Regions from separate parts of the Homo sapiens genome. Here all the other regions are linked to region 1. Evidence: fine-mapped expression QTL. A gene starts in region 1. Each other region holds a variant in brackets. All regions are shown on one strand. Distances are from middle to middle. Region 1 holds the start of PLIN4 (perilipin 4). Region 2 overlaps SH3GL1 (SH3 domain containing GRB2 like 1, endophilin A2). Region 3 holds the start of LRG1 (leucine rich alpha-2-glycoprotein 1).

Region 1 (9,760 bases):
CTGTCTCAAAAATAATGATATACGCCTGTAATCCCAGCACTTTGGGAGGCCGAGGCGGGCAGATCACGAGGTCAGGAGATCGAGACCATCCTGGCTAACACAGTGAAACCCTGTCTCTACTAAAAAAATACAAAAAATTAGCCGGGTGTGGTGGTGGGCGCCTGTAGTCCCAGCTACTCGGGAGGCTGAGGCAGGAGAATGGCATGAACCCGGGAAGGCGGAGCTTGCAGTGAGCCGAGATCGCGCCACTGCACTCCAGCCTGGGTGAAAGAGCGAAACTCTGTCTCAAATAATAATGATAATGATAATAATAATAATATATTCAGGCTGGGCACAGTGGCTCATGCCTATAATCCCAGCACTATGGGTGGCTAAGGCAGGAGGATTGCTTGAGCCCACGAGTTTAAGAGCAGCCTGGGCAACGGTGAGACCCCATCTTTAAAAAAAAAAACAGGCCGGGCACGGTGGCTCACGCCTGTAATCCCAGCACTTTGGGAGGCCGAGGCAGGTGGATCACCTGAGGTCAAGAGTTCGAGACCAGCCTGACCAACATGGCGAAACCCTGTCTCTACTAAAAATACAAAAATTAGCCAGGCATGGTGGCAGGCACCTGTAATCCCAGCTACTCTGGAGGCTGAGGCAGGAGAATCGCTTGAACCCAGGAGGCAGAGATTGCAGTGAGCCGAGATCGTGCCATTGCCCTCCAGCCTGGGTGACAGAGCGAGACTGTCTCAAAAGATAAAAAAAAATTAAAAAACACAAAAATGAATGAAGATGATGATGGCCTAGGAGTTCTAACTCTCGGGTGTACCTGTGAGGTGCTACTTTTTTTGTTTGTTTGTTTTTTGAAACAGAGTCTCACTCTGTCACCCAGACTGGAGTGCAGTGGCGAGATCTCGGCTCACTGCAGTCTCCGCCTCCTGGGTTCAGTAATTTTTCTGCCTCAGCCTCCTGAGTAGCTGGTATTACAGGCGTGCACCACCATGCCCAGCTAATTTTTGTATTTTTAGTAGAGATGAGGTTTCACCATGTTGGCCAGGCTGGTCTCAAACTCCTGAGCTCAACTGATCTGCCTGCCTCAGCCTCCCAAAGTGTTGGGATTACAGGTGTGAACCACCGTGCCCGGCCAAGGTGCTATTTTAATTCAGTAGTTTTCAACTGGGTGATTCTGCCCCCAGGGGGCACTGGGTGATGTCTGGAGACATCTGTAGTTGTCACAACTTGGGGAGGCTCCTGGCATGGAGTAGGTGGAGACCAGGGATGCTGCTCGGCACCCTGCAGTGCCCAGGATGGCCCCACCCCAGAGAATGATCCAACCCCAAATATCCACAGTACTGAGGTTGAGAAGCCCGGAAATTGTATTCTCAGAACACATCTCCCAGCTTTGGCTCAGGTGGGCACCTTGGGCCCTGTAGTTGGAGAGACCCAGGTTCAAGTCCCAGCTTTTTACCCTCTCCTGCTCCCGACACTCGCTGTGTGGCCTTAGGCAAGCCACATGCCCTCTCTGAGCTAATATCCTCATCTGGAAAATGCTGATTAAAACAGATCCTCTTGCCAGGCGCAGTGGCTAATGCCTGTAATCCCAGCACTTTGGGAGGCTGAGGTGGGTGGATCACTTGAGGTCAGGAGTTGGAGACCAGCCTGGTGAAACCAACATGGTGAAACCCCGTATCTACTAAAAATACAAAAATTAGCTGGGCATGGCGGTGAGCACTTGTAGTCCCAGCTACTCAGGAGGTTGAGGCAGGAGAATCGCTTGAACCTGGGAGGCAGAGGTTGCAGTGAACTGAGATTGTGCCACTGCACTCCAGCCTGGGTGAAACAGCAAAACTGCATCTCAAAAAATAAAAGTAGAAGAAATAAAGTGCTTACGCTGCTGTCGCTTTGGTCTCATCTTGCCAGGCACAGCCCTGTGTAGACTGGAACCTTACGTGATTAGAGTGGGGTAGCACTGCACCCATTTCACAGATGTGGAAATAGAGGCTCAGAGGGGAAGCTCCGCCTGGGATCCCCAGGCTGTCTGCCTTCCCTCAGGCCCACAGCAGCCCCCCAGATAGCAGGAACTGAAATGTCCCAGGAGGGAGCAGCCCCCCAGATAGCAGGAACTGAAATGTCGCAGGAGGGGGCACCCCCAGGGCTCCTGCCACATCAGACCCTGCCCTGCACATCCTCTCACCTTTTCCGAAGGTTGCAGCTCCTTCTCCGTCCATGGGGCCGTCTGCTCTGGGTGGGCAGCCACTGTGGGGACAGGGGCCGGTCAGGGAGAGTGAGGGATGCAGTTAGAACCATCTACCCGGCTGCCCATTGCACAATAGCCAGGCACAGCCTAAAAGGTCAGGAATGTTTCAGCTACCCCGCCAGGGACAGCAGGAGGTGACATCCACGGCTACCAGCCAGACCTGGTCACCCCCCAACCCCGCTGGGGGCTCCCCCCAAGCCCAGGGCCGCTGTTCCCTGAAGTAGGGCTCTGTGGAACTTCCTCTGCTGGGTGGACACCCACCCTGAGTCCCGGGGTTCATATAGCCTGGCATGGGGGAACAGCCCCTTGCCCAGCCCGCCCCGCCCCCACCGCAGCTGCCTGCTGCCTATTGCCAGGCCAAGGCATGTGGAGCAGAAGTCAGCTGCCTGGGGCTCTGGGCCCAGAGGGAGGCCCAGCTCAGGCGGCTGCCCCAACCCTGGGTTCCCTGTCACCGTCCCTGATCGCCCAAGCTGAGCCACAGGAGGCTGGGGAGCCCCTGGGCTGTGTGACCCCAGGGGAGCTGTTGCTCCTCCCTGGGAGTCTGGATCTCACTCTGATGAGCTCAGATGGGCAGAGCACCCAGCCTGGGCCATGGTGCATCAGAAACGGAGTGCAGGGTGGGGGAACGGCCGAGGGACTGAGTGGGGGGGCATTGCAGGGAGACAGGCTGGGTTGAAAGCCACCTTCGGCCACTCACCCCCCATATTTATGCCTCAGTTTCCCCATCCACCACAAGATGTCCTAGTGTCTGATGAGAGCACACAGACAAATATGGAGGACTCCCCAAATGGCTGGAAGTCCCTGCCCGGGGAGCTCCTTCTCCCAGGTCCATGTGTAGAGTCCCCCCACGCCCCCAGCTGGGCCAGCCACTCACCCTGAGCCTGTGGTTGGGCAGCCTCGGCAGCAGGCGCTCCTGTGGGGTCAGCGGCCGGCCGGGCTCTCGCCGAGCTATGTGCGTTGGCCACCAGGTTCCGGGCAGAGCTGAAGCCAGGCAGGGACCCAAAGAAGCTGCCCAGGGTCTGCATGGGGGCGGGGGGTGTGCAGGATGAGCAGGCCAAGCCTCGGCAGGAACGGGTCAGAGGAAGCATCGATTGATCAGCCCAATGCCGCCCCGGCCCCTTGCTCCTGGGTGACCTCAGGAAAGTGTTTCAGCCACTCAGCCTCAATTTCCACACCTGGGCAATGGGCAGACTCAGCCTGCCTCCCATGCACAGAGGAAAAGATCGTCTACCCGATCTCCAAAGACCTTTTCCTTCCAGGATCCCCACTGCACAGATGGGGAAACTGAGGCTCAGAGAGGGGCGGAGCTGAGGCCGGCCCAAGGTCACTTGCTGGGGAAGGTGTCGAGGTCTGCGTGGGTCCCCCGCCTCCAGCTTGGGTCAGAAAGGAAGGGATTGGCATCATGGCTCCCAGACCGCCCCCACCAGCCCACCAGGGAAGCACCTCTCCAGATTCGAGACCCCAGGACTGTGGAGGTCACCTTCCCCGGCTCTGGGGCATCTCCAGGCCCCAGCAAGAATCTGCCCCATTTCCCCTCTTTACCTTGCCCTTCGGTTTGGGGGGATCCCGTCTCCCTTCGTCTGGAGCAGACATAGTGAGAACGTGAGAAGCTGGAAGGGGGCAGAGAAGGTGCGTGAATGGGGGTTCCCTAGCCTCCCATCCCACACCCACTCCCCACTGAAAGCCTGAGCAGCCCGACACCCACCTGCAGGCCTGGCCTCACCCTGGTGTCACCGAAGCAGACGCGGCCCCGCTCACCTGGACTGCGCGGGGTCCCCTGGAGGACGGACCGGCCCGGCTGGCAGCTGGCTCTACCCTCAGCTCCCTGGCCTTATAGGGTCCGGGGCAGGCGCAGGCCCAGCCAGCAGCGGCAGGCGGCCAATGGGCCCGGGGGAGGTGGCCTGGACGGTCACATGGCTACCTGCCCAGCCCAGCATGGGCCCAGGCCCAGCACCTTTCCCCTGTTTCCTGCCCACAGCTTGCATCAGGCTGAGTGGCTCACAGGCCAGATGGGCTCCCCTCCCGGGCCCCTGAGCCTCCAGTTCCATCCACGAGGTGGGTGTAGTTCAAATCTCTGCTGCACCAGGATGCCTTGGCCAGTTACCATCTTTTTGCTTCAGGTTTCTCTCTCGTACTCCGCACCACGTCCCGTAACATCCAGCTTCTTCTCTGCTCTCATCTCCCCCAGCTTCCTCCTTCGCTTGCTTCATCCCAGCCACACAGGCCTCCTCGCTATGCCTCCAGCGCACCTGGCACGGTCCTGCCTTAGGGCCTCTGCACGGGCTGTGCCCTCTGCCTGGAACACCTTCCCTGCAGGTTCCCACAGGGCACCCTCTTCCGCCCACAGAACAGTGCCTGGCATACATTTGGCGCTTAATACACGTTTGGCTCAATGGAGCAACACAGAGAGTGGTTGTGAGCCTCTGTGAGATGAGGTCATGCACTGAACAAATGCTGCCTTCGCGTTACCCAGGCAGAAGCGGGGTCTCGGGGTCTCGGCAAGGAGCAGGGGGTGTCCTCAGTGTGGAGGGGAGCCCATCACTCTCCGGAAGGGACTTGGGCCAAAACGCAGACCAAGATGGAGCACCAGCCAAGCTGGGGGCACCCTAGGAGTGGAAACCCAGCCTGGGGGGCTTGGGCCAACCCAGGGAGGCTCCCTGGAGGAGGCGTCCTGTTCCAGAAGTGGTGAGGATGGGATTCAAACCCAGACCCTCCTGTTCCAGGAAGTGGTGAGGACGGGATTCAAACCCAGACCCAGGACCTTCGTGCTGAGCCCAGCCTATGTGCTGGGCTGTCTGTGGGTGGGTGGGCAGAGGAATGGCCGTAACGCCCACCCTGGGCTGTGTCCCCCTCCTACCTGCCCCTGAGACAGGGTTCCTAGCCCTGTGTTATTGGGGGTGAGAGGGCAGACCCCATGGGTGGCTCTGGGCACTGGGCTGGGAGGAGGGAGGGTACAGCCACAGGATCTGATGATTCCCAGGCCGTCTGTCTCCTTGGAGCCGACACTGTGTTTGCCAAACAGTGGGGGAACAGAAGGGGGGGTGTCCCCCAACCTCTTCTACCAGCCAGTGCTTCCCAAGGGTGGCTGGGAGAGCTCTGGGTGCCCCTCCCCTTCCCAAAGGGCAGCCACAGCCCAGTGTGTGGAGAGAAAAAATTAAAAAGTGATCATAAACATCCCAGCCAGGATCTACCCCTCCTCTGCCCAGCACCCTCCATGGCTCCCACCTTCTCCGGGGTGGGAGCCCAGGGTCAAAGCCCAAGTCCCCTTCCTGCAGCCCGGTAGGCCCTGCATAACCTGCCTCGTCTGCTCCCCACCTTCCTCTCCTTCTTCTCTTCACTCTGCTCCAGCCACACGGGCCTTTTCACTGTTCCCATAACATGCCAGGACAGAGTCCCTCAAAGACACACGTGACTGTGCCTGCTTAGCCCCGCACACCCTTCCTCAGGGCTTTCGTGTGGGTTGTTGCTTTTGCCTCCAGCACCCTTTCCCACATCCCTCACCTCCTTCCAGGTCTTTCCTCAAATATCACTTCCTCAAAGAGGCATTCCTGGATCTCCTCTCCCTTTAAAAAATATATACCTCAGGCCAGGTGCCATGGCTCACCCTGTAACCCCAGCATTTAGGGAGACCGAGGCAGGAGGATTGGCTTGAGCACAGGAGTTTGAGACCAGCCTGGGCGACAGAGCGCCACCCCGCCTCAAAAGAACAAAAGAAAAAAAAAAAAAAATAAATAAAAAAAATATATTTTATATATATATATTTCTGTTGAGGCGGGGTCGCGCTCTGTCGCCCAGGCTGGAGTACAGTGGTGCGATCTCGGCTCACTGCAAGCTCTGCCTCCCGGGTTCATGCCATTCTCCTGCCTCAGCCTCCCGAGTAGCTGGGACTACAGGCACTCGCCACCACACCCAGCTAATTTTTTGTATTTTTAGTAGAGACAGGGTTTCACTGTGCTAGGCAGGATGGTCTCGATCTCCTGACCTCGTGATCCACCTGCCTCGGCCTCCCAAAGCGCTGGGGTTACAGGCATGAGCCACTGTGCCCGGCTGCCCAAAATATATCTTTAAATAAAAATTAAATGAATTAATGGGCCAGGCGCGGTGACTCATGCCTGTAATCCCAGCATCTTGGGAGGCCGAGGCAGGTGGATCACCTGAGGTCAGGGTTCGAGACCAGCCTGGCCAACATGGCAAAACCCTATCTCTACTAAAAATACAAAAATCAGCTGTGTGTGGTGGCGCACGCCTGTAATCCCAGCTACTCGGGAGGCTGAGGCAGGAGAATCACTTGAACCTGGGAGGTGGAGGTTGCAGTGAGCCAAGATCGCGCCACTGCACTCCAGCCTGGGTGACAGAGTGAGACTCCTTCCCCACCCCCCCAAAGAAAAGAAAAGAAAAGAAAAATCCCAGGGCTTAGCTCAACCCATTCTCTTTTCCTCACCTCTGCTGCAGTGAAACTGATTTCCCTACTGCTGTGCCTTTCCCTAAGCTGTTCCCTCTGCCAAAATGCCTACCCCTATGTGCTGTTCTGATCATCCTCAACAGGCCTGGCCCTGCCAGGAGCCCCCAGCCTCATGTGGGAAGAGAGAGCAAGGCTGCCTGTGGCTATAAAGTCAAGGTGGAAAGGGCAAGAAACCTTGAGAAGGTGGCCTGTGGAGGACCGGAGGAGGGAAGTATCCGGCTGGGATGGAGTCCTGGAAGCCTTCCTGGAGGAGGAGGCATTGAGGCTGGGCCTTGAGGATGTATGAGATGTGTCCGAGGGACGGATGGGGGGTGGGAAGAGTATTCCAAGGTGGCCGCACAGCCTCAGCAAAGGCCCGGAGGTGGGAATGTGCCCACTTCAATGGTAAGAGAGCAAAGTATCCAGGTCAGGCTGGAGGAGGAAGCTGGAAGGTGAAGAGTTTGGTCTGTGGGCAGTGGGGACCTGTGGGAGATTCCAGAACAGGAGCAGGGAGGTAGATTTGGCTGGTGGAAGTGGTCGGAGATCCCAGAGCTGCCCTCTGGACTATGTCCCAGGGAAGTCAGGGGCCACCCTGACCTCACCATACCAAGCTGTGGTTTCCCAACACCCCGCCCAGCCCCAGGGGAGTCGGAAGAGCAGCCAGGAATGCGGTCAGAGGACAGGAGGAAACCCCCGAGACCAGCCTATGGCCCTTGCCCTGCCTCTGTCTTCCCATCCTGGCCAGTGCAGCTGGAGAGACCACAGCAAGACCAGCTCCTGCAGGACCAGGAGGTAGAGAGAGAGCTGCCCCATCTGACTCCTTCCCCATCTTTTCTGCTCCCTGCAATTCCATGAAATTCACCTGTACCAAGATGAGAACAGCTTCCATGCGGCCAAAGGGGCAATGCTGTTGTTTATTTTTAGAGACAGGGTCTCACTCTGTTGCCCAGGCTGGAGTGGAGTGGTTACTGATCCAAGCTCACTGCAACCTCAACTTCCTAGGCTCAAGCGATCCTGCTGCCTCAGCCTCCCGAGTAGCTGGGGCACAGGCTCGTACCATGTGTCATTTTAAAATTTTTCGTAGAGACAAGGTCTCCTATGTTGCCCAGGCTGGTGTCAAAACTCCCGGGCTCATGAAATCCTCCCACCTCAGCCTCCCAAAGTGCTGGGATTACCGATATGAGCCATGGTGCCCGGCTAATTTTAAGTGGTAATGCTTACCCCACATGGGCTGGGCAGTAACGGTGGATCCCAGACAGGATGACAGGCAGGTCAGAGAAGCACCATTCTTCTAGATCTTGAACTCTGGCTCTACACACCCCCTTCTCCATGTCTCAGCAGTGACACACCTCCGTGGCCCCCAGCCCCCTGGGACTGAGACTCACCCTGGCTGGAACACACACGTGGGCCTTTCAACAACAAAAAGGACCTTTATTCTGGAGGCAAATCCCAAACAGCAAAGCAAGCGAGTATGGCAGGCTGAGCAGCACGGCCCATGGGCAGAGGAGGGCTCACTTTTCAAAGTTCCAAATAGGGCAAAATGTGTGTTTCCCTAGGAAGTATTTTTTAAAAACATTTTTGAGATAGAGTCTTGCTCTGTCACCCAGGCGAGAGCGCAGGGGCAAGATCATGGCTCACTGCAGCCTCCAACTCCTGGGCTCAAGCAGTCCTCCCACCTTGGCCTCCCAAAGTGCTGTGATAACAGGTGTCAACCACCACACCCAGTCAGGGCTCACTTTTCAAAGCCCCAAACAGAAGGCATTGGGCAAAATGTGTATTTCTTCGGGAGGCTGTTACTATTATTTTTTGTTAGATGGAGTCTCGCTCTGTCACCCAGGCTGGTGTGCAGTGGCGCGATCTCTGCTCACTGCAAGCTCCGCGCCTCTCGGGTTTAAGCAATTCTTCTGCGTCAGCCTCACAACTAGCTGGGACTACAGGTGCACACCACCACACCTGGCTTTTTTTTTTTTTTTCTTTCTTTCTAAGTAGAGACAGGGTTTCATCATGTTGGCCAGGATGATCCCGAACTCCTGACTTCAGATGATCCACCTGCCTCAGACTCCCAAAGTGCTGGGATTACAGGCGTGAGCCACTGTGCCCAGCCTCTTGGAAAGATTTGGATTCGCTTCATGGAGCCAGGGAGCAGGACATAGGTGAAGAACCCAGCTTGTGGCTCAAGTTGGCCTGAATAGGGTTCGAGGCCCTGCTCCCCCGGGCCTCTTTGTCCATGTGTTCAAGGAAAAAATGGGAGAGTCCAATACCAAAAAGGTGGTCAGAGATCCGGAGTTGGGCCTGATTCCAAAGAAGGGTCAAGGCCAAGGCCTCGAGCTTACGTGTGGCCACCAGGGGGCAGCAGGGATCGGGGTGTGCAGGTGGCCTTTCCTCCCCGCCTCCACTGGCCCATGGGTCAGAAGTCCAGCTCGGGCATCAGGGTGTGCTTGACCGGGCAGCTGGGGGTCTCGGGTTCCTGCTCGCAGATGTCCCCGGCAACACCCATCCTGTCCCCATCCCCATTCCCACTCCCGTCCCTGTGCTCTGCCTCCCAGGCTCTCTGCTGGGCCGGCCAGTCCAGGTGCGCCCAGCGGGGGTCAGGGCCCCCGATGACCTCGTCCACCAGGTCCGCCAGGTCGGGCAGGGGCTCGGGTCGCTCCACAAGGATGGGCGCGAAGGGTCCCACCAGCCAGGGCAGCGGCACGGCCTGCACCACCAGCTCCAGCAGCTCGTCCACGCAGGCGTGCGCGTGGGCCACGCGACCCCGGCCCTCGGCCAGCGCGGCCGCTGGCACGTCCCTGAAGCAGCGGGCATCAGCGAAGGCGGTCTGCAGGGCATCCACACTGCGCCGCACCTCAGCCACCTTCTCCTGGGCGCCGGCGGGCAGGCCCCGCACGCTGGACTCCAGAGCCTCTACCGTGCCCTGCAGCTCCTGGGTCAGGCTGCGGGACAGCACCAGCGTCTCCAGCTCTGCCTGCAGGGGGCGGGGACCTCAGTTTCCCCTATGGACGCCCAGGAGGACTGCTGTCCTGCCTCGGTTTCTCTGATGGACCCACAGTGGAGCTGTCAACCTGTCTCATAGACCTCAT
Region 2 (10,457 bases), 140 kb before region 1:
TTCTGCTGAAGGCATTAGGAGGAAGGAGCCCCCCCTCCCTAGGTGTTTTTGGGGCGTTCCACTCTATTTCCTGGGACAGTTTCACTTCTTTTGATTGTGGCGAGAGAGGGCGTGCTCAGAGCCAGCGGCTGCCGGAGAGGGAAATGAGTGGCTGATGTGAGACTGGACTCTTCTGGGAAGCCGGGAGGAGAACTGAAGCCAGCGGGCTGCGAAACCACACCTTCTGGGCGGAGGCCACCCCGGCCCCACGACCTGCCCAGGCAGGACCCAGTGTGCAGGCTGGCAGGAGTGGCTCCGTCAGGGCCCTTCCCCAGCCCCCTGCCTCTCACAGGGCAGGAGGAGAGGCCCTACCGGCGAGGACCACATCCTGCCTCTGAGGGGAGGGGCTGGGGACCCGCCACGGTACCAAAGACCCACCTGGTGGCCTCTGGCTCTGGCCCTGGCCCCACCTGCCCATCTCACCTGGGAATCCAGGACCCTGCCTTCCTGAGCCCCAGGACGACTTCCTGAACCCCCACAACCGCCTGACTCCTCGCACCCCTGACACCCGGGAGGCTGTGCCCTAACTACCCGGGTCCCTCTGCTCAGCTCCAGCCAAGTCCCTTGTGGTGACTGATGGTCCCCCACGGGCCAGGCACTGGGCAGGGGACACAACCCTGTAAGGCCCCTTCTCTCCAAGGCTTATGGGCTAGAAACCAGCACAGATGGACACAGGGATGAGCAGCCACAAGGGAAACACGGGAAAAGCAAGGCAGCCGGGCCACGTGCAGCGCCGGCCGCAAGCGCGGAAACCAAGCGTGGGCTCCTGCCCGCTGGGGCCCTACTCACTGCGGTCTCCACACCAGCACACTGCTGAGCACGGAGGGGACCGAGAGTCTGCGGCAGAGCTGGGCGCCACGGGGAGGCTCACCAGAGGGCGCCTCTGGGCTCGCTGTCAGGAGCGAGTGTTCCTAACCCTGGTGCCATCTGCCAGGCAAGAGCTGCCTGTTGTGGGGCAGCCAGCCCCAATGCCCCCGCATCAGAGACCCTACCGGTGGGGAGGGAGGACTGAGGCCATGGTCCCAGCAGTCCATTCCTGCCGAGGGAGACTCTGCAGGCTGGCTGTAGCCCTGACTAGTGCAGCGGACTCAGCAGTGGCAATGACAGCTCCGCACTCGAGTCCATCCCATACCCACAAGGCTCGCCTCCTGTTCCCACCCCGCATGGCAGGAAACGGAGGAAAATAATGGGGCCACTCAGTAGCCAGGGACCCAACAGGGCTCAGGGGTGAGACCACCCTCCGCTGACTGAACCTGCATCAGGGTGGCAGGGTGGGTGGGGGCCCCCTCCCCACTCTCCCACAGGGCCCCACCTGGACGGGGTCAGAGTACCAGCTGCAAACCCCGAGTGACCAACCGCAGGCCCCACAAGGGCTGCCATCCTGAGAGCAACACCAGCGCCTTCTCTCCCCATGCCTGGAACAAACAGGCCGAGCCCAAGAGGGAACAGTCTCCAAGACTCTGCCCCTGCTTCAGATGCCGGCTGGCCTCCCACAGAGGCTGTGACATGTCCCCGCCTGGAGCAGGGAGAAGTGAGGTTTGGCCAACCCTGCCAGGCGAGGACCAGGGCTGAGAAGTCACTATGGGAGAGGCCCCGGCTCAGTCAGGCCTGGCAGTGGCCTCTGGGAAGGATCCCACTGTTGCCTGCCGGACACTTCCCCAGGGTTTGGCAAGACTGGCTTGTGGTCTTTCAGATCTTTGCCCAGAGATGCCCAGCGGAGACCTGCCCACTCTATGCTCACGCATCCCACCTGCACCCGCCACCTGCATGCCGCATGGATTTTCTGCCTGACCCTGTACTCTGTCACCTGTGAGCCAGGCACCTGGGAAACGAGCAAGCTGGACACGAAGATGGGGTTTTGCCCCAGAGCATGGGACTCTTGTCCCCCTGGGAGAAGGGGGCTATTCCTTTGAAGCCTGGCATTCATTAGAGTTTAGACCTTTGGCTCTCTTTGGAGGGGAGCAAGGGATGTGACACACAGAACAGAGAATACAAGGTGGAAAAATACAGAAATGAACTGTGAAGACACTGTGGACTGAGAGTCAGGACAGGGCTACCGTAGGCAGGAGAATCCCAGGTTTTACCCAGAGGGGTGTGGGCAGCTGCCCTGTGCCCGGCAGGCACAGCTGTGGTGGCCACTTGGCAGGAGCAGGAGGAAAATTCCGAATCCTGCCGAGTGGAGCTGGCTGCTGCCGATGGGCGGCCTTGGGATTTAAACATCTCAGCGGGGAAACCTGATCCACACAGCACGGAACACAAATGCCCGTCTCGGGCTTGGTGCCCCAGCAGACTATCTGCTCTGATGAATTCACAGGGTTTTGTTTTTTTTTCTCTTTTAAAGAAGAAAGCCAGCGTGGGGGAGGGCAAGGGAGGGCTGCTGTGGCCCAGCCTGCAGGGATGCGCCACATTTGCCCGCAGAGGGGTCGGCCCCAGGGTCCTCAGGTCTCACTGGCAGTCATGCTGTGGTGCTTGGTAATTTCCAGGTTCACAGCAGAGTTCACGGGTCCTCCCTCGGCTGGGGAGCGGGTCTCTGGCTGGTGTCTGCCTGCCCGTCGGCATCGGTGGTGCTGTGGTGCTGCACGCTGTGCTACAGAGCCATCTCCGCGTCCCTCCCTGCAGTCCTCCTCAGCGGAATCTGTGAGCGCACAGACCACAGGGGCCTCGCCCAGTGCCAGGCACAGAGCGGAGAAATGGCAGGTGGGCACGGCTGGTCAACCGCAGCGAATACCTGTGACAAGGCCTCATCTTTTTTTTTCTTTTTAAAGAGGCAGGGGTCTCACTATGTTGCCCAGGCTGGTCTCAAACTCGGCCTCAAGCAATCCTACCTCAGCCTTCCAAGTGCCAAAACTACAGGCATGACACAGTGTGCCTGGCCAAGGCCATACATTTACAGGACTAGGGGACAACAGCCCCAGGACAAAGCATGGGTTGGGGAGCTGGGGACCATAGGAGGGGGTCCAGGCCCAGCCACCTGCAGGACCAGGGACAGGGCAGGCAGGACACACGGAACAAGGGCCACTATTCACAGTCCCATGTGCCAGCCCCCATGCTAGGCACTCTGTGCCCGGCCCCCAACGTCACAGAGGAGGAAGCTGAAGGGGACGTGGAGGAGGCGAGTGCTCAGCCCCTCCTCACAGTGGGCGCAGTTCTAACACTGCAGCTGTGTTCAAGGCCTGGTCAGCCATGGAAAGGGGCAAAGCCAGGGTAAGGCCTGCAGAAGCAGCAGAGTCCTTATCAGACCTCTGTGCAAAACAGCTGGAATACAGGGTCGGGGTGGAGGCCCCAGGGAGGGACGTAAGGATCCCTGTGGTGTAGAAAAAGCCCTGACGTGGGAAGAGGGCAGGGGCAAAGGATGTAGGGATGTATCATATCCGTGTGTCTCTGAACCCCTTTCCATCTGCAACGCCCTTCCCTGCTGGCCCAACACCTGGGAGCCACTGCCCAACACACATGGCCACCTCGAGTCCATCACAGCTTCTTTCCCATGAGTCAAAAAGTCGAAGACGCGCACAGCCTGGAGGCGGCCTGCTGCCCAGCGACACAGGAAGCCACTGGCCTTCGTGTCCCCTTTTCCATGTGGGCTCCCAGGCTCCTGGCTTGCTGATGTGTCTGTCTGTCCTTCCTGGAAACCTTCAGTGGCCCCAGTGGCATGGGGACTCTCCAGACCTGAGGCCCTTGCGTGCTGACTATGAAAGCTCGCCTATCTACAGGGGCGGCGCTGGCTGCAGGCAGCTCTGAGCTTTCCTGTGACAGTAAGTGCCTGGCATGGGTGGGGTTGTGGCCCCTGGGCTCCTGGTCTGGGAGCCTGCAGGGCATCCGCAGGTGAAAAGCAGGAGTAGTCATTCCTGCACATGCTCAGGGATGAGGCCAGGAGGGGGAGGGAGAGGAGCAGTGGGAGGGGGGGCCACAGGAGCACCACAGGTGCCAAGTGACCCTCACAGGTGCCAGGTGATCCTCATGGCCCGGCGGCGAGGAATCAGACGGCAGAAACCCACTCCCCAGCCCAAGGGAAGATGGAGGGAGCCTCTGCCTTGGGGCTGACTGGGTCATCACCCACTGTGTGTGATGCACGGAGGGAAGGGTCCCGACAGCCGGGGCTCCCCTCAGCATCTGGGAGTTCTGAGAGCCCTGGATTTGCCACTGTCCTTCGAGCCTCCAGCCTCTCAGTAGAGATCTCCCCTCCTGTCCATCAAGGCTGAATGGTTTTTAAAAAGCAGCCTTTGGGAACGGAGGCACTGAAAACAATGAATCAAGACAAAGTTTCTGAAATTATTTTCTCACGGAAACCCCAAACCAGACGCTGCCACCATGGCCAGATTGGGCACCCGGGGACAGCCACAGACCCACCTCTGTGGCGGGTCAGGCGCTCCTCTGGGAACCAAGCTCTGGCAGCAAAAGGACAGTGGCTCTGGAAGCCCCAGGCGTCCTCTCAGCCAAAGGGGCAGTCCCTTGGGCCTGGGCTGGCAACCGAGATACCGGCTCTGGACTGGAACCAGAATGGGCTCTGCCTCAGACCAGGCCACAGAGGGCCCCCTGAGAGCCCGGCTTCCCCACGGCCCCCAGGCTGTGGGGACAGGCCTGCCACAGACTTCCTGGCCAGAGGTGTGGCTGGGTGCCATGGTAGGGAAAGACAGCCAGACATTGGGGGCCATGGTGCGGCCCGGCCACCGCAGTCTAAATCGCCTTGGGGGTGCGTTTCTGCCAACTGTGGTGCTGGCCATTCATGCCGTCTCTCAGGCTGTCGGGCCCTGCCCTGCCTGACTCCTGGCTCTTGGAGCTGGAGAAAGGACTCTCAGATTGGCAGAGAGCGATAAATGCTTTGTTGTGTGCGCGGCAGCGAGCCGATGTCATTTGAAGTCACAGCACATGAAAATGAGGGGGAGAAAAAAACTTAGGCAAGAGAAATCCTCCAGATGGGCCCTGGAGGCCCCATCCAAGAGTCTGAGGCCAACACATCAGGGGAACTGGAAGCAGAGAGGGAATCAGCCACTGGAAAGAAGTCACGCAGACGAAGTGGTGACAGCCACGACAGGAAATTGCTCAGCGGTGGCCACAACAGAGTGGCAGCCAGGGGCCAGGGGCCAGCTCTGTGACCATCCCCGAGAGAGAAAGGGGACATTCAGGCCTGGTCTATGATGGTCTGGTGGCCGGAGGCTCCGTGAGGGCAGCCCCAGGGCCAGAAGGA[C/T]CTCTCCTGTGCTGACAGCAAAGTCACCAGCGGGAGTCCAGCCCACACTGCCTTTCTGATGAGGCCTCCAGCTCTGGCTGCTGACTTTAAACCCTAAGGAACCCTGTGCAGGGCCTGCATCCCGGAAGGCCTCCACCAGCCCGAACCTGGCCCGTCCGCCCTAGATGGGGCAATCGGCGTTTCTCCCGGGACAGCCTCCTCCCTGGCCTCCTGGCCCTCGTCTGCATTGAGAGGCTTGGCCTCTGGTCCGCATGCTGCCCTTCCCGTGCTGTGGCCTTGCAGCCCGGCCTCTCCCCTGCTGTCCCCCTTGGCTCTGGCCTGGCCCCTGGGCCCCTGAGTCACCCCTGAGGTGACTCAGCAGTCCTTGGAAACGCATGCCGAGGACGCACCCTGCCTGGCCCAGCTCCACATGGGTGTGGGGGAGGCTGCGGGCTGCGCCTGGTGGCCGTATGGGGCCTAGGCTGGCCAGTGCTGCCCAATGGTGGGGGCTCCCTCACCGCCCGTCTGGCAGAAGCCATGGGCCACACGCTGTCCCAGCACATGGTGGCAGGGCGGTGACCTGGGCTCGGCTCTAATGACCGGCAGCCCTGGGGCTCCCATCACCACTACCAGTCTGCCCAGGAGGCAGCAGAGCACTGAGCCCGACCTGCTCCCCTCGGGCACCTACGAGACCCACCTGCCCCTCCATGCGTGGGGGAGAAGGGGTGCCCTCTGCTGTGGAAAGCTGGGACCTACTGTCTGTGGTGCGAGGCTGACCCCACAGAGCTCCAGGACAACCCCGAGAGGAGTGGACAGAGCCAGCCGGGCCCTCCAGCCCCCACCTGGCCCAGCTGCCGCCTCTGGGCAGATGTCTCCACTTGATAAACAGGACAGCTAAGGGCCTAGGAGAGACATGCCTGGCCCAAGGCCAGACAGCAGGAGTGGCTAGGAAGGTCAAGGGATCCCCACTGCAGGCCCCACCAACCCTGGCTCTGCCTGGAATGCAGTCAGGGCAGGTGGAAGGGGAGGGGCAACGCCCCAGGGCTGGGCGAGGAATCTGGGAGCAGGTGGGAAGCTCATGCTACCTTCCCAGGAGACGGGAGGACAGGCCTGCCAACCAGGGGGCTCAGCTATGTGGGACACACGCTCCCACCCTTGCCCTTGCACAGGGTTTCATCCAAACATGGAGATGCCAGTGAGTGCCTGGGGCTCCTCTCCCAGGAACAAACCACACCCAGAGCTCCAGCCCGAGCGAACACATCTACATGAAAATCAGCCTCATGCATCATGCATTGTAATTTCTCATCTTGGGGACCAGGCAGGAGGGCTGTGTGACATACAACTGGTAAAATCAGTTTCCGATGAAAACTTATAAAAGGAAAAAGCCAACCCACAAACAAATGAGGCGATAAATCCCCTGAGGCTCCGCCTGGCAGGGAAACACCAGCTCTGCAGCACTGAGCACAGGCTGGTGTTCCCACTGGGGGCAGCATGGAGGATCTGCGTCCAGGGGGCAGAGTGTGATGACATCACCCACATGCACAGGAACGATAAGGCTTTCTTAAAAAACGATCTTTTCTCAACAGCTCCTCAAAAGGAGCTGAGGCAATGCATAGCCCTGCAGGAAGAGACTGGAAATGGTCTTGGAGAGAGAACTGCGGGGCATGGTGACAGCGGTGAGAGGCTGCAGGTGCACAGATCTCAACGAGGGGCCGTGAGTTCCCTCACTCCCTGAGAGCTGAGGAGACTTGCCCGAAAGCCCAGAGCCCTTCCTGAGACACAGAAACCATCTTCACCATCTCTAAGATCCCTTCCATTTCTGAAGGACTTCCATTTCTTTGTGACTGTGGGCCACCATGGGCATGAGTCACCTGTCACCAGAGCCTGGTGTCCCTGTGCAGCTGTGCCAGGTGGGCAGAGGAGACAGGTGAAGGCACATTCCTCAGCGCCCGCTCACAGCTCTGCCCACCGTGCATTCTGTAGAGAACCTCAGCGCCCTCCTCCCTGCCGGCAGCCAGGCAGGGATTTAGGTGGTTTCTGTTTGGCCTCCAGTGCTTGCCTCTCCCGTGTCCTATCCGCCCAGACCTCAGACCTCAGAGAAGCCTCCTCCCACAGGAAGCTCTCCTGATTGATCCCCATCACTGGTCTCCTCACCTTCTCCCAACACACCACTGATGCCTCCTCTCTCGTGCGCCTGCCCCTTCACACTTCATCTTACACCCCCATCTGCCTGGGCGGCCCCCCCATCTCCCCTCAGAGCTTTTGCTCTCGCTGTTCCTTCTCCCTCACTGAGCCTCCCTGGATCTTCCCATGCTGGGTCTTAGCCACCAGGGCTCTGTCCATCCAAATGTCCCCATGGCTGCAAGGCTGCCCCACCCTCCTGCTATCCTCACGGGGCCTCGCATTCCTCTTGCTTGCTTGTTTTCGGGTCCCCTGCTGTCCCGTCTCAGACACAGGAAGCACTCTCCAATGCTTAGCGCCCTAGAATAAAGGACCCCGGGCAACCTCTTGGGGGTCCTCGCCACATCCCACCCCTTGACAGCAGCTAAGCTCCGGGGGCAGCAACTCCCCGCAGTGACCCGGAAGGCAGCCAGATGATACTCCTCCCATCACCTTCCCTTTTGTGGCTCGTGGACGGTTCACCTGGGCTGACACTGATGGAGGCCGCCAGGCCCATTCCCAGCCTGGAGCTGGCTCCCTCCCCAGAGAGCTGCAAGGTTGGGAAAATTTGCAAAGAACAAAACGTGAGCTAGGCAGGCCTAGCCTGACTCACATCCTGGGGACCCAGCTACCACATTTGGGCAGTTTCTTATCCAGGAGGATGCCCGGGAACAGTGACAGGTCTGAGGTCTGGGCGGATAGGACACGGGAGAGGCAAGCACTGGAGGCCAAACAGAAACCGCCTAAATCCCTGCCTGGCTGCCAGCAGGGAGGAGGGCACTGAGGTTCTCTACAGAATGCGTGGTGGGCAGAGCTGTGAGCGGGCACTGAGGAATGTGCCTTCACCTGTCTCCTCTGCCTATCTGGCACACTTACACAGGGACACCAGGCTCTGGTGACAGGTGACTCATGCCCATGGTGGCCCACAGTCACGAAGACAGGTTTTCTGAGGTGTGGCTACCAAAAGCACCCAGGCCAGAAGTCATCCCGGGTGGCACGGGGCAGGGCAGGGGGTGGTGAGAGGCGGTCAGCAGCTCTGCACAGCCAGCCGCGCCTGTGCACTGGGGCCCTCTGCGAGCATTAGGTGCCAGCAGCTGTCACCTTGCAGTGGCCACTCCTGCCCCCTCGCCAGGTCACGTGCACTGGCTCTGGCGCATGGGTGCCCCTGGCCGCTCAGAGGCACTGCCTGCTCCTTACACAGTGATGTCGGTGGTGGAAACCCGGGCTGGGAATCTCAGAATTGCTGACCACGGCCTCAGCACAGAGGAAGCAGGCAAATGGCCCGAGTCCCCCCACCATCTCCCCTGCAGCGAGAAGACTGCAGCCTCTCCTGTCTGAAGACTCGCGTTTGGGTCCCGGGCCTGGGAGATTCTGGCGGGTGCAGCCTGCTTCCCAGGGCCCCTTCTGCCCCGCTGTGGCTCATCGTCCTTGGAGGGACACCACTCGGGACAGGCTCTCGTCGCCAACCCACCCCAAGTTCTCTGTCCTCAAACACAAGCTTCCTGCCAGCAGGGCCAGGCACAGGGACAGGGGTGGCAGAGGCAGCACAGGGCCTGGCACCCAGGTGGCGTCAGTCACTGAGTATATGGTGAGATAATAAATACTAGTTGTTGAGATAACAAATAAATAAGAAGCAGCCCTGCCCTCGGGAGCTCAGGTGTGCCAGTAACACATCAGAGCAAAGGTGTGCCGTAACGCCACGAGGCAAGCAGGCTGACGTGGGATTAGGGTGCCTGGATGGGCGACACCGGGACTGGATGTGGTTCCAGCTCTGCCGTTCGGGGCTGTGACTCTGAGCAGGAACACAAACCCCTCTGAGCCTCGGTTTTCTCAACCATCTCAGGCGTGGATGTGCTTTAGAAACTACACACCACCAGGCCAGGTGCGGTGGCTCACACCTGTAATCCCAGCACTTTGGGAAACCGAGACGGGCAGATCACCTGAGGTCAGGAGTTTGAGACCAGCCTGACCAACAGGGAGAAACCCCATCTCTACTAAAAATACAAAAATTAGCTGGGCATGGTGGTGCATGCCTGTAATCCCAGCTACTTGGGAGGCTGAGGCAGCAGAATCGCTTGAACCCGGGAGGCGGAGGTTGTGGTGAGCTGAGATCGCGCCATTGTACTCCAGCCTGGGCAACAAGAGTAAAACTCTCTCAAAAAATAAAAATAAAAAAAACAGAAACCATACACCACCCTACGATCCTAGGCTACTGTGCACTGAGCAACTGAGTCCCGAGGAATGATGGGTGTGGGGCCGGCCAGGGGTTTCACCTCCGCCCCACGACACTGCCTCTGAGCCCAGTTTTTCTGGAGCAAGAGGCTTCATGCAGGCCCTTAAGAAGAAGAAGAAAAGGAACACACCTTACCTGAGTCACACCCATCTCCAAGGGACCCTGGTGAGGCACTCACAGGACCACGCACACCAGGAAAAACTGGCTACAGCTGGCTGATCGTGCACGAAATCTCATGTTGCGCCCAGAGCGCCTCCAGATCAGCCACAGAGTCAAGTCCCGGTTCCAAAATGCTCACAGCACGGGACATATTTGTCAATGGCCGTGACACAAATTCTGAGGTTCTACTGGCGGACGAGGGCGGGAGGAAAGAAGCAAAGGACTGCCAGGCTTGGTGGCTCATGCCTGTAATCCCAGCACTTTAGGAGGTCAAGGAAGCAGATCACCTGAGATTGGGAGTTCAAGACCAGCCTGGCCAACATGGTGAAACCCCAGGCATGGTGGCTCATGCCTGTAATCCCAGCTACTTGGGAGGCTGAGGCAGGAGAATTTCTTGAACCCAGCAGGTGGGGGTTGCTGTGAGCCAAGATCACACCACTGCACTCCTGCCTGGGTGACAGCGCAAGATGCTGTCTCAAAAAAAAAAAAAAAATAAAGCAGCAAAGGACCAAGAGAGAAAATGACTCAACTTAAAAAGAAGGTTGGTAGAAAATTCCCCACATCCCTGACACACACCTGCTGCTGTCTCACACCCCAGGCAGCTGCCACAGCCGCTGCGCCCTCTCTCCTGTTTCCCAATCAACCTGCATTCCTGTCTTCCTACCAGCTGGGAACTTGGCACAGCTGCCCATCCTGAACGCA
Region 3 (10,457 bases), 21 kb after region 1:
CAGACCTGCCGCCTGCGATCCCTCCGGTTGCCACCCCGCGTCCTCTGAGGCCTGGTCCTCGCCCAACTGGGTCCTGAGCTGGGGCCAACCGGGCCAAGGGTCCCAGCCACCTGCTCTGGCCGGTCATACCCGTCCCACGCCGCCGGACCTTCGCCCAACCACCCTATCTGGAGCTCCTCTCCTAAGCCCGGGGGGGCGCTCCCGGACGCCGCCCTCAGGGCACTCACCTGGGCGCGAGCGGCTTCAGACACCAGCTGTCTCCGCCGACCCCAGGCTCGAGTCTCCACACCCCCGCCGGTCCCGCCCGCCCTTCTTATAGCTGCTCGCGCAGTGGGGGCCTCCGGAACTGACCAATGGGGAGAGGCCGTGCGGGGGCGTGCCCAGGGGGCGTGGCTCCAGGCTTCCCTCGCCCTCTCCTTGAGCTGGCCCAGTGCCCTACGGTTGCCATAGTAATTCGGGAGCGCTAGATTCAAAAGATTGAGCTATTATACGTTCCCGGACCAAGTTTGGCCACCTGTCATCCTCACTGCTGTTGCCATAGAGACAGTCCATGCGATCACAGCCCCCATAGCCCTGCTGAGTGACCTTGGCCAACTCGCTGATGACTTTTCTTATTAATTATTATTATTTATCGATTTTTGAGACTGGGTCTTGCTCGGTTGCCCAGGGCTAGAGTGCAGTGGTGTGATCATAGCTCACTGCAGCCTTGCCCTCCCAGGCTGAGGTGATCCTCCCGCCTCAGTCTCCTAAGTAGCTGGGACCACAGGCACACACCACCACCCCCAGCTAACTTTTTAAACTTTTTGTAGAGACGAGATGTCCCTGTGTTGACCAGGCTTGTCTTCAACCCCTGAGCCCCAAGTGATCCTTCCACCTCAGCCTTCCAAATTGCTGGGATTACAGGTGTGAGCCATTGCACCCAGCCTCTTTTTATTTCTTAATCTGCCCCTTAACTAAGCCAGAAGCCAGGCCTTCCCTTTCCCTAGGATCCCCATTTCACAGATGAGCAAGCTGAGGCTCAGAGATCATAAAACACTTGCCCCGCATACCACAGCAAGTGAGGGATCCTATTCCTTTTTTTTCTTTTTTTTTTTTTGAGACAGAGTCTGACTCTGTCGCCCAGGCTGGAGTGCAGTGGCGCGATCTTGACACACTGCAACCTCCGCCCCCTGGGTTCAAGTGATTCTCCTGCCTCGGCCTCCGGAGTAGCTGGGATTACAGGCGCCTGCCACCACACCTAGCTAATTTTTGTATTTTTAGTAGAGACGGGGTGTCACCATATTCGTCAGGCTGGTCTTGGACTCCTGACCTCGTGATTTGCCTGCCTTGGCCTCCCAAAGTACTAGGATTACAGGCATGAGCCACCGTGCCCGGCCAGGGATCCTATTCAAACCCAGCCCTGCTGGACCTCAGAACCCTGCCTTTTCATTGCCTTGCCTGGAATGACCACAGATGTAGGCATGGTCTTTTTATTTTTATTTTTATTTTTGAGACACAGTTTCACTCTGTCGCCCAGCCTGGAGTGCAGTGGCGTGATCTTGGCTCACTGCAACCTCCGCCTCCCAGGTTCAAGTGATTCTCCTGCCTGACCCTCCCAAGTAGCTGGTATTACAGGCACGTGCCACTGTGCCTGGCTAATTTTTGTATTTTTAGTAGAGACAGGGTTTTGCCATGTTGGCCAGTCTGGTCTCGAACTCCTGACCTCCGGTGATCTGCCTGCCTCAGCCTCCCAAAGTGTTTGGATTACAGGCATGAGCCACGGCGCCAGGCTGCATGGTCATTTTTTAGGGAGCTGGGAAAACTGGACATGCCCCCAAGCCCCAGGGTCTTCCAAATCCGATTGCAGCCCCCACATGGCCAATGCTGTATCAGCAGGTGGGCCCGGGACCCTGCTCATCCCTTCAGCCCCATCCTGCCCCTGCAACCTTGCCCGGGGGCAGGTGCCCCCTTCGATGATCTCAGGTCAGCATGACAAATCGTTTGGAGACCTGGGCAATCTGGTTTAACTTAAACCTTCTCCTAGGACACAAGCCCTGGCAGAAATCCACTGGTAAAATGACACCCGGGCAACAGTCAAGGTTTTATTTCCAGTTAGGTCCCAGGATGGGGGAAGGGAGAGGAGAAGTCACAGGCCATTGATCCCAACTGTCATCCCCTAGGGAGACCATATCCCACACCCCAGGGCCTGGGCCATGCCTCTTTTCCTCCTTCACCCTGGAGTCCTGGGAAGTTGATTTGAGAAGATGCTAGGAACACAATGAAAGCCAATTCATCCGATCCAGTTTTCAAGGGTTATTTATTAAACCCCTTGGTTCTGACCCCAAGCTAAGTGGGACTCAGCATCAGACCCTGCACTCAGAGAGCCCCCTGACTTGGGGAAGACAGAGTCAGAGAAAGGCAGCCCCAGTGTGGCCAGGGCTCAGCTGGAAGGAAGGACAAGGGGCTGGGAGAACCCAGAGTTCAAGAGATCTGGGAAACAGGGAACGGCATTCCAGACGGAGGGCACACCTTGGGCATGGGTAAGGAAAGCCCATCGTGTGTTCTAGGAAGCATGGATGGATGAAACGGGGTCCCAGCCGCTATGGACAGCCCCGAGTTTCACCTGTAAAAGGCAGGATTATTTGTTTTTAATTTTAATTTTAATTTTTTTGAGACAGTCTTGCTCTGTCGCCCAGGCTAGAGTGCAGTGGCACGATCTTGGCTCACCGCAAGCTCCGCCTCCCAAGTTCACGCCATTCTCCTGCCTCAGCCTCCCGAGTTGCTGGGACTACAGGTGCCCACCACCACGCCTGGCTAATTTTTTATATTTTTAGTAGAGACAGGGTTTCACCATGTTAGCCAAGATGGTCTCGATCTCCTGACCTCGTGATCCGCCCACCTGGGCCTCCCAAAGTGCTGGGATTACAGGCGTGAGCCCCCGCACCCGGCCAAAGGCAGGATTATTTGTTAAGCGGGTTGCAGTGTTCTACCAGACCCCCCACCCTCAACCCAAGCCCCTGGTCTCACTGGGACTTGGCCACTGCCAGGAGCGTCTGGCCCTTCACGGCTTCAGGCCCAGCACAGCGCGTGTCATTCTGGGAAAACATCTTGTCTTTTTGGGCCTGAAGCCAACGATAGAGGTCGCTCAGGTTCTGGTCACAGATCCAGGGGTTGCCGGAGATGTCGAAGCCATCCCGCATGTCCCAGTTTGGCTGCCCTAGGGATGCCCAGAGCCCCTCGGGCACGCTGGCCAGTGAGTTATTGGAGAGGTCCAGCATGTCCAGCTGCCGCAGGCCCTGGAAGGCACCGGCTGCCACCCTGGCCAGCTTGTTGCCGTTCAGGAAGAGGTAGCGCAGGTCCGGCTGCGGCAAGAGGAGATCTTTTCCCAGTACTTGCAATTTGTTGCCTTCTAGATGTAGCCGTTCTAATTGCAGCGGACCCCTCAGGAGGTCAGGTGGCAAGGTCTCCAACTGGTTCTCCCCAAGGTCAAGGGTGCGCAGGAGGGTGAAGTTGGCCAGCAGCCCGGGGGGCAGTTTCCGGAGGCGGTTCCCAGACAGGTCCAGATGCCCCAGAGCTTTCAGGCCGTGTAGCCACGAGACCTCCAGGACCTCCAGCTGGTTTTCTTTCAATACCAGGGTGTCCAGGGTGGCTGAGGCCTGGAAGAGGCCCGGGGGCAGCCCGGTCAGGGCGTTTCGGGTTAGATCCAGCACCCTCAGCTGCGGCACTGGCCGCAGGAATTCGGGCGAGAGGCTTTCCAGCCCATTGCTGGAGAGGTGCAATTCTTGGAGCTTAGAGGCGCCCTGGAGGAGGTTGGCTGGCAGGTGGGTCAGGTTGAAGAATTCCACGGCCAGGTGCACGGTGTCGGCTGGCAGGTAGCCGGGGATTTCGGCAGGTGGTTGACAGGAGATGGAGCTGCCATGGTCTGAGCGGAACACCTGGCAGTCTTTGGGGCTCAGGGTGACCCCCCAGGCTGAGGCTGCCAACAGCAGCAGCAGGAACAGAGTTCTAGAAACATGGGGTTGAATGCCCCCTGGGCTGCAGGCAGTAACAGAAGATGCTTACTAAACCACAGTGAAAATACACTCAGCTAGGTGAAAATACACCAGCAAATCCGCCCACTTCTTCCCATCTCTGCGGCTACCAGCCTGGACTATGCTACCTCATCTCTCACCTGTACTAGGGCAGTTGCTTCCTCCTCCTCTTCCAGCTTCTACCCTCACCCCCGACAGCTGCCAGAAGTGGCCCCTGTTCCAGGGAGAATTATAATTCTAGGAAAGTTGAGTTTCTGAGTGTAACTCCCGCATAATATGAATACACTTCCCCATCACCAGCCTAGCCCCCATGAGCTGTTAATTATTCACAGTCCAACTTGCTAGTTTCTTCTGAT[C/G]TGGCTTATTTTCTGGGTCAGTCCTTGTCTCCCTGGCTCTGTGTTTTGATGTGAACTCCTATTCATCCTTCAAAGCCCCAGCTCCAATGCCCTCTTTTCCATGAAGACTTCTCTGCTCTGGGATCCTGGTCTTTTTGTCCACTCTTGACCAATTGGGTGCTTGGAGGAAGACAGACGTTCAGGTTCATGTTTTTGAGACAGAGTCTTGCTCAGTTGCCCAGGCTGGAGGGAACTGGCATGATCACAGCTCACTGCAGCCTCTGAACATGAAAAGTGTGTCCTGCTTTGGCCAGGTCTGAGGGTGGGCATTTGGCCTTGGGAAGCGGTGGTTTACACTTAGCACCACAACCCTTGGAAGCCTGGGGCTTCCCCTCCTCCTCCAGGGCTTCCCTGGCCCGGCAGCCATCAGACATGATCTCGACAGCCTTGGTCACTGTGGCCCCAGGCCTCTAACAAGAAGCCTCCCCCGGCTCCCTGCTGCCCATGCCCACCTGGGCTTCTGTAGGGGTGTGTGTGTGTGTGCACGCGCCAGTCTTTCTGTCACAGATAAGGTTGATCTGTGCCAGCCACCAGGCCTGTATCTGCTCCCTGTGACTTCTATGGGTTAGCTGGAATGTCCTGTATCTCCGCATGGTCTGGCGTTCAAACCTGCCTAGGACAGGTAGTGTGGGGACCTACCTTTTTGGTCGCTGTCTGCTCCAAGAGGACATGGTAGCTCTGCTCTTTTGCTTCTGGGTTGTCCTGGCCTGCGGAGGTGGCCTTATACCTGCCTGGACTGGGGGCAGGGGAACCAACCCTGGGGAAGTCCCCACCCCCGTCCAGTTCCTGATAGGGGCTGAGCCTAAGCCAGGCAGGGGAAGGGGAGGGGTCAGGATTACAAAATTGCTTCCTGGAAATTGTTTCCTGTTCAACCCCTTTTTGACCCTGCTTCTAGAACACAGGTTTTTCTTTCCTTGCTTCCTGATTTTTGGGGGGCATCCAAGAGTCTCTCTAGTTGCATCCTCACTTCCCCCAACCCGGAGTTCAAGGGTCAAGGTTTGCAAGGCACTATTCCTGGAGACAGGGACAGCTCTCTGAGCAAGAGGAGGGATTTACCATAAACTTGAGCAACCCAGAAGCTCACTGAAAAGAACAAAAAAACTCGTCTTGATTTCATGGTATGTTGATATTGCTTTTTTTAAAAGAAGTCATTTTAAAAATACAGTCCAATAGTGAGTAATGCCAAACGTCTCTACGGTCCTTAGACAGTGGCTTGGGAGGAACCAAACCTGGTTCTGAATTCCAGCTCTGTCATGAACACCTTTGCTTTGTGACCTTTGGCAAGTGACTTAACTTTTCTTGGCCTCAGTTTCCCCATCTATGAAGCTGAACTCAAATCTCCAAGGGCTCCTTCTGCCCTTTTTTCTCTTCATCTGAATCTGACATCCATGCTATTGTTTCCATTCTTCCTCATTTCCTATTAAATGCGTTTGGAGGCTACAAATTTCCCTTTGAGAACAGCTTTGGCTGCATCTCATGGACTTGGCTGCAGAGTGCTTGCATTCTTGTTGAGTTCTAAATATTTAGGTATGATGGTGTCACCTTTATCTGCAGCTATGACTATTTTTTTTTTCTTTTTTTTTTTGAGACAGAGTCTTGCACTGTTGCCTAGGCTGGAGTGCAGTGGCGTGATCTCCACTCACTGCAAGCTCCGCCTCCCGGGTTCACGCCATTCTCCCACCTCAGCCTCCCGAGTAGCTGGGACTACAGGCATGCACCAGCGTGCCTGGTTAATTTTTATATTTTTAATAGAGACAGGATTTTGCCATGTGGCCCAGGCTGGTCTTGAACTCCTGAGCTCATGTGATCCACTGGCCTCGGCCTCCTAAACTGCTAAAATTACAGGTGTGAGCCACCATGCCCCGTCATTTTTTTTTTTTTTTGAGACAGCATTTTGCTCTGTTACCCAGCTTGGAGCAGTGTGGTGCAATCATAGCTAACTGTAGCTTTGACCATGGGTCCAAGGCCTCCCAAGTAGCTGGGACTACGGGCACGTGCCACCATGCCTGGCTAATTTTTTTTGAGATGGAGTCTCCCTCTGCCACCCATGCTGGAGTGCAGTGATGCAATTTCGGCTCACTGCAAGCTCCACCTCCTGGGTTCAAACGATTCTCCTGCCTCAGCCTCCCGAGTAGCTGGGAATACAGGCACATGCTACCATGCCTGGCTAATTTAAAAAATTCTTTTGTATGTTACCTAGGCTGGTCTCAAACTCCTGGGCTCAAGGAATCTTCTCAGTCTCTCAAAGTGCTGGGGTTATAGACGTGAGCCACTGCACTCCGTCAGTCTTGTGCCCTGCCCAGTCTCCGGAGCCCAGCCGTTAGTTGGTCTTAATCAACATGGACTGAGAGGAAGGAAGGCTTGTGAAATGTAGTGACACAGTAACAAAACGATCCATTAAAATGAAATGAGATCACATCCCTGCTTAAAACTCTCTGATGGCTTCTTGTCCCACTTAAAACAAAATTCATAAGGCTGGCCAGGCGCAGTGGCTCACGCCTGTAATCCCAGCATTTTGGGAGGCCGAGGCAAGCGGATCACCTGAGTTCAGGAGTTCGAGACCAGCCTGACCAATATGATGAAACCCCGTCTGTACTAAAAATACAAAAATTAGCGGGGCGTGGTGGCGGGTGCCTGTAGTCCCAGCTACTGGAGAGGCTGAGACAGGAGAATTGCTTGCACCCAGGAGGCATAGGTTGCAGTGAGCCGAGATCGCGCCACTATACTCCAGCCTGGGTGACAAAGTGAGACTCTGTCTCAAAAAAAGAAAAAGAAAAAGAAAAAGAAACTGGCTCCTATGCAGATGAAGATGGGGACCCCGAAGTCTCCATGTTTCCACACTCAGCTCCCCAGATTTGTTTTGACCCAGCCTTTTTTTTTTTTTTTTTTTTGAGACAGCGTCTCGCTCTGTCACCCAGGCTGTAGTGCAGTGGTGTGATCTCAGCTCACTGCAACCTCTGACTCTCAGATTCAAGCTATTCTTCTGCCTCAGTCGGCCGAGTAGCTGGAATTACAGGAACCCGCCACCAAGCCTGGCTGATTTTTTGTATTTTTAGTAGAGACGGGGTTTTGCCATGTTGGCCAGGCTAGTCTCGAACTCTTGACCTCAAGTGATCTGCACACCTCGGCCTCCCAAAGTGCCGGGATTACAGGCGTGAGCCACCGCGCCCGGCCTGGCCTTGACTTTTGAGGGTGCCCCCACCCGTGCCACCCCCAGGAGGCAGAGCAGAGCCAGAGTCATGGGGGCCGGTGGTTGTAAACAGAGTTTTATTGATGGGGAGGGGGCTGGGGGAGGCAAACTCCAGAGAGGGCAGAGGACCCAGCCAGCCACGTGGCATGCATGGTCAGCTGGAGGTCAGAGGGGGGAGGTCACAAGGGGACGGGTGGCATGGGACTCTCTCACCACCCTGGGGCCGTATTTACAGAGGGGCCCCACCCACCTTCGCCGCCCCCCAGGCCCCCAAGCCCTTTAGACAGCTGCTGCCGATGTGACTTCCGGGCAGGCCCTCCTCGTGTCTCCTGCCTGAAACCCCGGCATTGTCCCCGCTTCCCTCTGCAGAGTGGGGGGGGTTCAAACTCCTAACCGGCACCTCGGAGACCCCCGGGCCTTCTGGAAGCCCCAGCGTCGGCTCAGCCAACGCCCAGGCCGCTGGGGCCACCACGATCGTCGCTCGTGGACACACACCCTGCACGCGTGGCCCACTTGACACACACGCCCACAGCAGCCTTCGCTGGCACGCACACACACGCCCACCTCCCCGGCCCCTTGCACACGAACACGGCACGCACACGCACGCACACCCACACACGCCAGGGGCCTGGGTTGGGGAGGGACCTTTCCAGGGGTGGGGGAGGGCTTAGGTCTGCAGCTGTGGCCCCCCATTCCCCACCGGCGTCCAAGCCTCCCCTGCCTGCCGCCACCCCGAGAACGGAGTTGTGCAATTGGTTAGAAAACCGCAAAAGAAACCAAAACTGCAAAAAAAACCAAAACCTACGCGCATAAGGTCAACCTCAAATCCATAGCAAAGTCCTCCCGCCCACCCACCCCCAAACCGTCTCAGCGTCCTGCGGCCCCGGGTAGGGGGAGGGCGAGCTGGTTGTGCTTCCTTGTGGCGGAGGGGGCCCCCCACTCCGCGGGTGGGTCGCGGGGGGGACTTGAGCACCCACTCGGAGTTGCCCCGGGCCCCGGCGTTCTGGCACCGTCTCTCGCTCCTGGTTCCCGTGGCTGGCACTGCCAAGGCATCGGGGGGCCCCCGGCCTAGGGCACGGGGGGCGCAGTCCTGTCCGCCCCCCCATAGGGGAGGAGGTGGGCCAAGTCTGTGCCCGGCCGGGCGTGGCAGCCGCGGTGGCGGTCCCCAGGCCGGGCCTCGCCGCTGTTGAACGTGTGGGTGCGGCGCAGGGTGGCGGCCGGAGGGGCGTGGGGGCCCAGTGGCCTCCTCAGGCTGCCCGTCGGGGGCGGGCTCCAGGGCCGCGGGAGGCCATCGGCGGCTGAGGCTGGGTCCAAGGGGCCCGTGGGCGCGGACACCACCCGCCGGCGGTCCGGGCTGGCGTGGGGGGTGAGCGGGAAGTCGCCGTGGGAGGCGCGGCCGGGCCGGGCAGCATAGAGGCGGCCGTCGGGGGTCGGCTCCCCAGGCGCGGGGGGCTGCTCGGGGGCCCGGGCGGGCGCCAGCAGCAGGAGGGAGGATGAAGCGGAGGCCGGGAGCAGGGGGTGGCCGTGGTCCCAGGCGCGGGGGCCCAGGGCGTGGGGGTGCGGGTGCGGAGTGGGCAGGCGCTTCTGCGGCAGCGGCGTCTGCTCGGGCGTGGGCAGCAGCCCCGAGTCCAGGTCGTGGGGCCCGCCCTGCAGCAGCGTGGCCTTGGCCCAGCCGTTCTGCATCAGGGGCGCCAGCAGGGCCTCCGGGGGAACCCCGGCGCCACCGCCACCGCCTCCGCCCCGGCCCCCGGGACCCTGCGCCCTGCGCTCGCCCAGGCGGCTGACGCTCAGCACCGCCTCGCCCGCCCCGTGCGCCAGGATGGCCTCCTTGTCCTTGCGCCGGGCCAGCTCCCGCCGCTCACGGAGGCCCACGAACCAGCCCACGCTGAAGCCGGACACCACGGCTCCCACCACGAAGGCCGCCACCGACGACGTTACCAGCAGGTTCACCGACACCAGCCCCGCGCGGTCCTCGGAGAGGCTGGCCCGCAGGAGTCCTGGCCGGGGAGCACAGGGGGGTTAGTGGGGCCGGCGGGGTGGCCCTGGGCATCCCTCCTACCTCCTCGGGGCCCTCTGTCCTCTTTTTTATTATTTTTATTTTTTTTTATTTATTTATTTTTTGAGAAGGAGTCTTCCTTTGTGTGCCAGGCTGGAGTGCAGTGGGGCGATCTCGATTCACTGCAACCTCCGCCTCCCATGTTCAAGTGATTCTCCTGCCTCAGCCTCCCGAGTAGCTGGGACCACAGGTGCCCACCACCACGCCCGGCTAATTTTTGTATTTTTAGTAGGATGGGGTTTCACCACGTTGGCCAGGCTGGTCTGAACTCCTGACCTTGTGATCCGCCCACCTCTGCCTCCCAAAGTGCTGGGATTACAGGCATAAGCCACCACGACTGGCCTTATTTTTATTATTTTTTAATTTTTTTTGTTTGTTTGTTTTGAGACAGTCCCCCAGGCTAGAGTGCAGTGGTAAAGCTCACTGCAACCCTGCCTCCAGCTACCTGTTTGTTTTATTAAAGACAGGATCTGGGCCAGGCATGATGGCTCACACCCATAATCCTAGCATTTTGTGAGGCTGAGGCAGGAGATCACCTGAGGTCAGAAGTTTGAGACCAGCCTGGCCAACAAGTGAAACCCATCTCTACTAAAAATACAAATTTTAGCCGGACATGGTGGTGTGCGCCTGTAATCTCAGCTACTTGGGAGGCTGAGGCAGGAGAATCAATTGAACCCGGGAGGTGGAGGTTGCAGTGAGCTGAGATCACACTACTGCACTCCAGCCTGGGTGACAGAGCAAGACTCTGTCTCAAAAAAAAAAAAAAAAGACATGTTCTCACTCTGTTGCCCAAGCTGGAGTACAGT

The links.
Region 2: its variant is fine-mapped to the expression of PLIN4 in whole blood (TOPMed, PIP 0.90).
Region 3: its variant is fine-mapped to the expression of PLIN4 in whole blood (TOPMed, PIP above 0.99).

Annotation. Positions count from the first base shown.
Region 1 is chr19:4,514,441-4,524,200 of GRCh38, forward strand. It overlaps PLIN4 (perilipin 4), which reads right to left and starts at 4,046. Exons shown (of 8, transcript NM_001367868.2): 1 at 3,945-4,046; 2 at 3,782-3,849; 3 at 3,114-3,258; 4 at 2,177-2,238. The coding sequence starts at 3,832. PLIN5 (perilipin 5) reads right to left here. Exons shown (of 8, transcript NM_001013706.3): 8 at 8,091-9,645. The coding sequence ends at 9,088.
Region 2 is chr19:4,369,194-4,379,650 of GRCh38, forward strand. The region is part of intron 1 of SH3GL1 (SH3 domain containing GRB2 like 1, endophilin A2); the gene reads right to left. Among named protein-coding and RNA genes, the nearest start is that of SH3GL1, 26 kb to the right of the region's middle. RefSeq lists enhancers at 3,241-3,974, 3,975-4,708, 5,399-5,693, 5,443-6,175, 5,459-5,753 and 10 more and a silencer at 6,079-6,373. The variant C/T (reference allele first, on the strand shown) is at 5,225.
Region 3 is chr19:4,534,938-4,545,394 of GRCh38, forward strand. It overlaps LRG1 (leucine rich alpha-2-glycoprotein 1), which reads right to left and starts at 5,099. Exons shown (of 2, transcript NM_052972.3): 1 at 5,045-5,099; 2 at 1,465-4,014. The coding sequence starts at 5,076. The coding sequence ends at 3,003. It overlaps PLIN5 (perilipin 5), which reads right to left and starts at 287. Exons shown (of 8, transcript NM_001013706.3): 1 at 228-287. SEMA6B (semaphorin 6B) reads right to left here. Exons shown (of 17, transcript NM_032108.4): 17 at 7,656-9,592. The coding sequence ends at 8,664. The variant C/G (reference allele first, on the strand shown) is at 4,367.